Linked DNA regions of Homo sapiens: region 2 is linked to region 1. The links come from fine-mapping of genetic effects on gene expression. A gene starts in region 1. The other region holds a variant in brackets. All regions are shown on one strand. Distances are from middle to middle.

Evidence for each region.
Region 2: its variant is fine-mapped to the expression of THEM4 in whole blood (TOPMed, PIP above 0.99).

What each region holds. Positions count from the first base shown.
Region 1 is chr1:151,908,210-151,911,128 of GRCh38, reverse strand. It overlaps THEM4 (thioesterase superfamily member 4), which reads left to right and starts at 1,618. Exons shown (of 6, transcript NM_053055.5): 1 at 1,618-1,769. The coding sequence starts at 1,671. RefSeq lists enhancers at 646-1,233, 1,222-1,341 and a silencer at 1,582-1,891.
Region 2 is chr1:151,885,273-151,888,191 of GRCh38, reverse strand. The region is part of intron 4 of THEM4 (thioesterase superfamily member 4); the gene reads left to right. Among named protein-coding and RNA genes, the nearest start is that of THEM4, 23 kb to the left of the region's middle. The variant A/G (reference allele first, on the strand shown) is at 1,502.

The DNA of each region.
Region 1 (2,919 bases):
TGACTACACTGTAAATTGTAAATAGATGCAATTTTAAGTTACCTGAATAAACTTTTCTATTCATTAACAGTAGTCATCTCAATTTTAGAGATTTACGTTATGCTCGTGCCTCCATCTGCACGCACAACATGGGAAGACAACAGACACCAAAGATACTTTGGATTCTTGCTGCTAAGTAAGTATTCAAGCACTACGTGCACGTTGTTACAATTAATAAGGCAATCTGACCCCATCCCTGCCACCAGGAAACTGCAATACTATTAATATATTAAAAAGGAAGACAACTGAGATAAAGGGAATGTGGGAGGTTGGGGGGGGTGCTTAGGAGATATCAGAATACAACCTCTTAGAATTACAGAATCTCAACAACCATCCTTTATGCCTGATCTTCGGTTCAGTAGCTCTAGGATTCCAAGGGGCCCCTCCTAACTGCATTGCCTTCTCTCCCCAATTCCCTTTCTCTCAGAATGTTACACCTTCCCCCAGTTAATAGTGTAGGCTTAAAATGTATCTAGGTGTTCTTACCTACTGACAAACTGCTGGAGTTGTTCATGGGAAAGGAATCAAGGCAAAATATCTAATGCATTCAGGTCATTCGAGTTTTCTTTTTAATTTATTGCTTTTTTGAGATGGGGCATCAGTATGTTGCCCAGGCTGAAGTGCAATAGCAGTATCTCTGCGAGACTCTGTCTCAAAAAAAACCCATTAGAGTCTTCACCTTAGGATGGACTAGGGCTATGGCATACTGGTAAGCATTTAAAAATAAAGGGGTATGATGGCCCGGATTTGCATTATCTGAGTAATGGGAATACTCCAACCCAGTCCGATTTCAAGGTCCCAGTGAGGTTACTGAATTCGAAGCTCAGAAGGTATGCGCCTAGTATTCCCACCATACGAATACAAGCGAGGTAAGTAACCTCAAAAGCATCGATAACAGTAAAATAGTTACAATACCTGTTACGCCTTTAGTATCCATTACCTTCGTTTAATTTAACTGTCAGTTTACATAACAAAAGAGTCTTTTAAGGCGTAAGCGCGCTCCTGGGGAGGGTATGGGGCTGTTGGCAGGGAAAGCAGCTTTTCGATCGTATAAATGCTCTTTGTGCCCAGACTGCCCTCTATAAATCAGCACTATCAACCCTGTCCAGAGACTTGCCCATGACCTCCAAGAAAACACTTTATTCATACTACTCCTAGCGTGCGCTCCTACCCGCCCCAGGGACTTCAGTCTTCCGGGGGAGGGATAACTACTTGGGGACACGGAGCACTGCGTACGCCCTGGGTCATGTGGGAAGGATGACCGCAAAGCCTCCAGTCGGCGCGCGGGTTCCGGGGCTGAGGGGCTGAGGGGCCCAAGGCGATAACCGGGATCCGCTCCGGCCGCGCTCCTCTTGCCTTTGAGAAGCCCCGGAAGTGGCCCGGCTGTTGGCCGCAGCGGGAGGTCTTCGGAAAGAAAAGGCCGGAACCAGAAGATAGACTCAACAGCGATGCCCTACCCGGACCCCGCCGGCCTCACACCCCGGCCAGCCAGCCGCCAGTAGTGCGCACCGCCTCCTCCCCAAGCCCCGCCCTGCGTCCACCCCAGGGGTTAACTCGCACGCGCGCTCTTGTGGCGGAGGTAGAGTGCGCCGTCCAGGGCTAGAGCAAGCGCGGCCCCGCGGCCCGGAGCCATGCTGAGGAGCTGCGCCGCGCGCCTCCGCACGCTGGGGGCTCTGTGCCTGCCGCCAGTAGGCCGGCGCCTGCCGGGAAGCGAGCCGCGACCCGAGCTGGTGAGTCTGGGCACCCTCGGGCATGGGGCGGGAGCAGGACTCAGAAACACGCCTGCGGTAACAGAGCCTTCGATTGTTATCCATACCCCAACCAGCCAATCTCAGAATAAAAGCTCACCTGGGCACCACAGGGCAGCATAAGCAACAGGGGCCTAGGAATACAGTCCTGAGATTCAAACCGTTAGAAAAGGGATGGAAAGGTGACCCCGTTTTTTTGTTTTTTAAGAGACAGGGTCGGCAGGGCGCTACCTGAACTGCATAATTTAGTCTGTCTATTTATATTTTGACAACATCTGTATTTTACCAATAATATTTGAGGCTGTTTTTATTTTTCAAAGATTAAAGTGACGTGAACTAAAAGATACCACAGCTTTTATCTTCCCTTTAAAAAAATATTTGATCCAAACGCTTATCTTCCTTTAGGTCAATTAATTAGAGATCTTTTTATAGACATCACACACAACACATATATAACTACACAGACAGGCAGAAGAAAACCCAGTTGCCATAAGATCTTTCATCACAGGGAGAGGGATCTATCTGCTTTTAATTCCTGGGGTTCCATGAGGAAAACAGAGATCGCCCCTCTTATGCAGGCATTAAAAGTGGCAAGGCAAAATGGAGAAAAATAACTCAGTCGACCGCAAAGAAACACTTTTTCCAGCAAAATAAGGTCCAAGAAAAGGAAAACATAAAGGCCTTATAAATATAATTACAACTTAGATATCTACTTTTAATTAAGCTGAGCACTCCTTAAGAAAATTCTTTTAACACCCTTATTATCTAACTTTAGCTCCACCAAGCGGCCAATATTTCTGGCTTTCAAACTTTACTTAAAGGCTCAGAGAAAGGAAAATCCAAGGTGGTTGGTGGAGGGCAGGGGAATCGACAAATAGCGAAAGGGCATACAGATACCAAACCAGAAAGGACTCATTCCCTAAGCCAGGATGAATCTGGGCCATGCCGGGCTAAACGAAGCTATGCAATGGGGTTACAGGCCACGCCCCCAAGGACGTAAAACAAGATGGAGGCCTGCAGCGAAGTTTGCTGTGGAGCATACAGAAAGACATGCAAAACACACAGATTGGCTACAGCTTACGACTTACCTCACAAATCCTTTCGCACAAAACTTTACAGAAAATATAAACGG
Region 2 (2,919 bases), 23 kb after region 1:
TGTTCAAGTGATTATTAAGGAAGTGCTCCCAGAGGAGACTAGCAAGGGAGTGGGAGAAGCAGGACGGGGAAGATGAAGAAGTGTCAACCAAGGCTGAACTCTCAAAAGTCCAGCAAAGCATAGCTTTAGCCAGATCATACAAGAGAGCTCTAGAATGAAATTTATGCCTCAGAATTGTCTCCATCTCAGATGAGGGAGCTAGAGTCTTTATACTCTCGCATGTATTGGTCATAGGATCAGGGCCATCCCAGGGACCATAAATTTCCAAGTACTTCTAAGGGTCTCTGTGTTTGAGCAAAGCAGACTCTAGAGAAAATAACCAAAACAAGTGAAGAAAGGATCCAAGGGGCTCTGGGTGGAGCACCAACATCTACTACATAACAAAATTAATTTTTTAAAAATTTAGCTGGGCCCAGCAGTGCACGTCTGTAGTCCTAGCTTCTTGAGAGGATTGCTTGAGCCCAGGAGTTCAAGGCTACAGTGAGCTAGGATCATGCCACTGCACTCCAGGGTGGGCAACAAGACCCCAACTGTAAAAAAAACAACAACAACAAAAACACACACACACACACAAAACACCGAGTCTTTTCAGTCCACAGGCACAGATGTCTTTCCATTTATTTGTGTCTTTAATTTTTTTCATCAATGTTTTGTAGTTTTCAGTGTATAAGACTTTTGCTCTTTGGTTAAGTTTATTCCTATGTATTTTATTCTTTTTGATTTTTTTATTTTTAATTTTTTTATTATTATTATTATTATTTTGAGACAAAGTCTCACTTTATTGCTCAGGCTGGAGTGTGGTGGCATGATCTCAGCTCATTGCAACATCCACTTCCCAGGTTCAAGCTATTCTCATGCCTCAGCCTGCCAAGTAGCTGGTATTACAGGCATGCACCACCACAGCTGGCTAATTTTTTGTATTTTCAGTAGAGACAGTGTTTCACTTTGTTGGCCAGGCTGATCTCAAACTCCTGGCCTCAAGTGATCCGCCTGCCTTGGCCTGCCAAAGTGCTGGGATTACAGATGTGAGTCACTGCACCTGGCCTTAATTGTTTTCTTAATTTCCTTTTTGGATTAGTCATTGTTTGTGTATAGAAATGCAACTGCTTTTTCTGTGTTGATTTTACATCTTGCAGCTTTGCTGAATTTGTTTATTCATTCTAACAGGTTTTTGTGGAATCTTTAGGATTTTCTATATACAAAGTCATGTCATTTGTAAACAGATCTTTGTACTTCTTCCTTTCCAATTTGAATACCTTTGATTTCTTTTTCTTGCCTAATTGCTCTGGCTAGGACTTCTAGTACCATGTAGAATAGAAGTGGCAAAAGTGGGCATCCTTGTCTTGTTTCTGATCTTAAATGAAAAGGTTTTAGTCTTTTACCATTCAGCATGATGTTAGTTGTAGGGTTTTCATAAATAGCCTTTATTATGTTGAGAGAGTTTCTTTCTATTCCTAGTTGTGCCTTAGATTTTTAACCTTTAAACCCAGATTGTCATTGT[A/G]CCTCCTTTTAACAATTTTAATAGCAATTACATTGATTCTAGAGATTAATTTGGGGAAAGTTGACATATTTACAGATGGTCAATATTTCATATTAGTTATAACTATAAATTAGATTCTAGAAATCTGGGTTTTCTTAACATGTTAAAGAATATATTAAAAATTAAATTTTTTATATTTTTCCATGTCCCATGTTTTTAAAAATATTTTTCCATGTTCAAATAAAGTTGAATAATGAAGTATAACATCGTTCCTAAAAAAATAAATGTAAACGGTTACTTTGAAAACAAGCTGAAACAAAGTATTTAGATTGCTGTTTATCTCAAAAAGTGTTTGTGTCTTAAGCACATACTCAAATGCAAAATGGGAAACAGAACCTGCCAAACTCTATGCTTAGTGTTTGTCCCACCCAATAAACCATCCACAAAAATCAGTTGCATTGCTGTTCATTTGTTCCCCACAATTGGAAAACATACTGAAAAGAAGTTTTACCTGAAGTCATATGGATAGAGAGCAATTTAGTCAGAATTAGAACTCACATCTTATGACACCAAATCTGATGCTCTTCACTACAACACACAGCCTCCATTGTCTTCTGTTAGTTGATGACTAAAGACCAGAATAAAGTATTGGATTTTATAAGTAGTTTAGAATTTAATATTTATCACTCTCTGTTTTTTTGTATACAGTTATTTAGGTTCATAATAATAGTAATAATATTAAATTTAATATGATTACTTGACAGTCCTTCAAGATGCTACAGGTAACAACCTGGGATTATATTTTAATTGAAAATAATTTGCAGTGTCAATTAATCATCAGATGCCTTAATCTACCTTACTTCCTTTAAGAAGCAAGATTATTCCTTAATGATTTCAAATAATTTCCAGCCCTCTGATCCAAATATCCCACTTGATTTATTTCCTTGTGCCTAGCACATTAAGATAAATAGACAAAGCAGGTCAAACTAGTGATGACAAGCCAGCTGAAAGGGTAAATATCTCAGCATGCCAATGACCCATTCATGACACATGAGTTGAGAAGCTCCTGATTCGATTTCTTCATGCAACATGGCAAACAAGAAATGCTAAAGGACATTCCTCCTTCAAAACAAGTAGATCCTGTACCAAATACACAAGGAAAGAAACTACCAAGGGTGACTATCAACAGAAACAATAAATAAGATTTAGACCTCAGGGATCTAAGATATGATGATAATCAAATACACAATATAAATGAATAAAGTATGAGATGTTTAAAGAAATAAAAGATGAGGCTGGGCACAGTGGCTCACGCCTGTAATCCCAGCACTTTGGGAGGCCAAGGCGGGTGGATCACCTGAGGTCAGGAGTTCAAGACCACCCTGGTCAACATGGCAAAACCCTGACTTTACTAAAAATACAGAAATTACCCAGGTGTG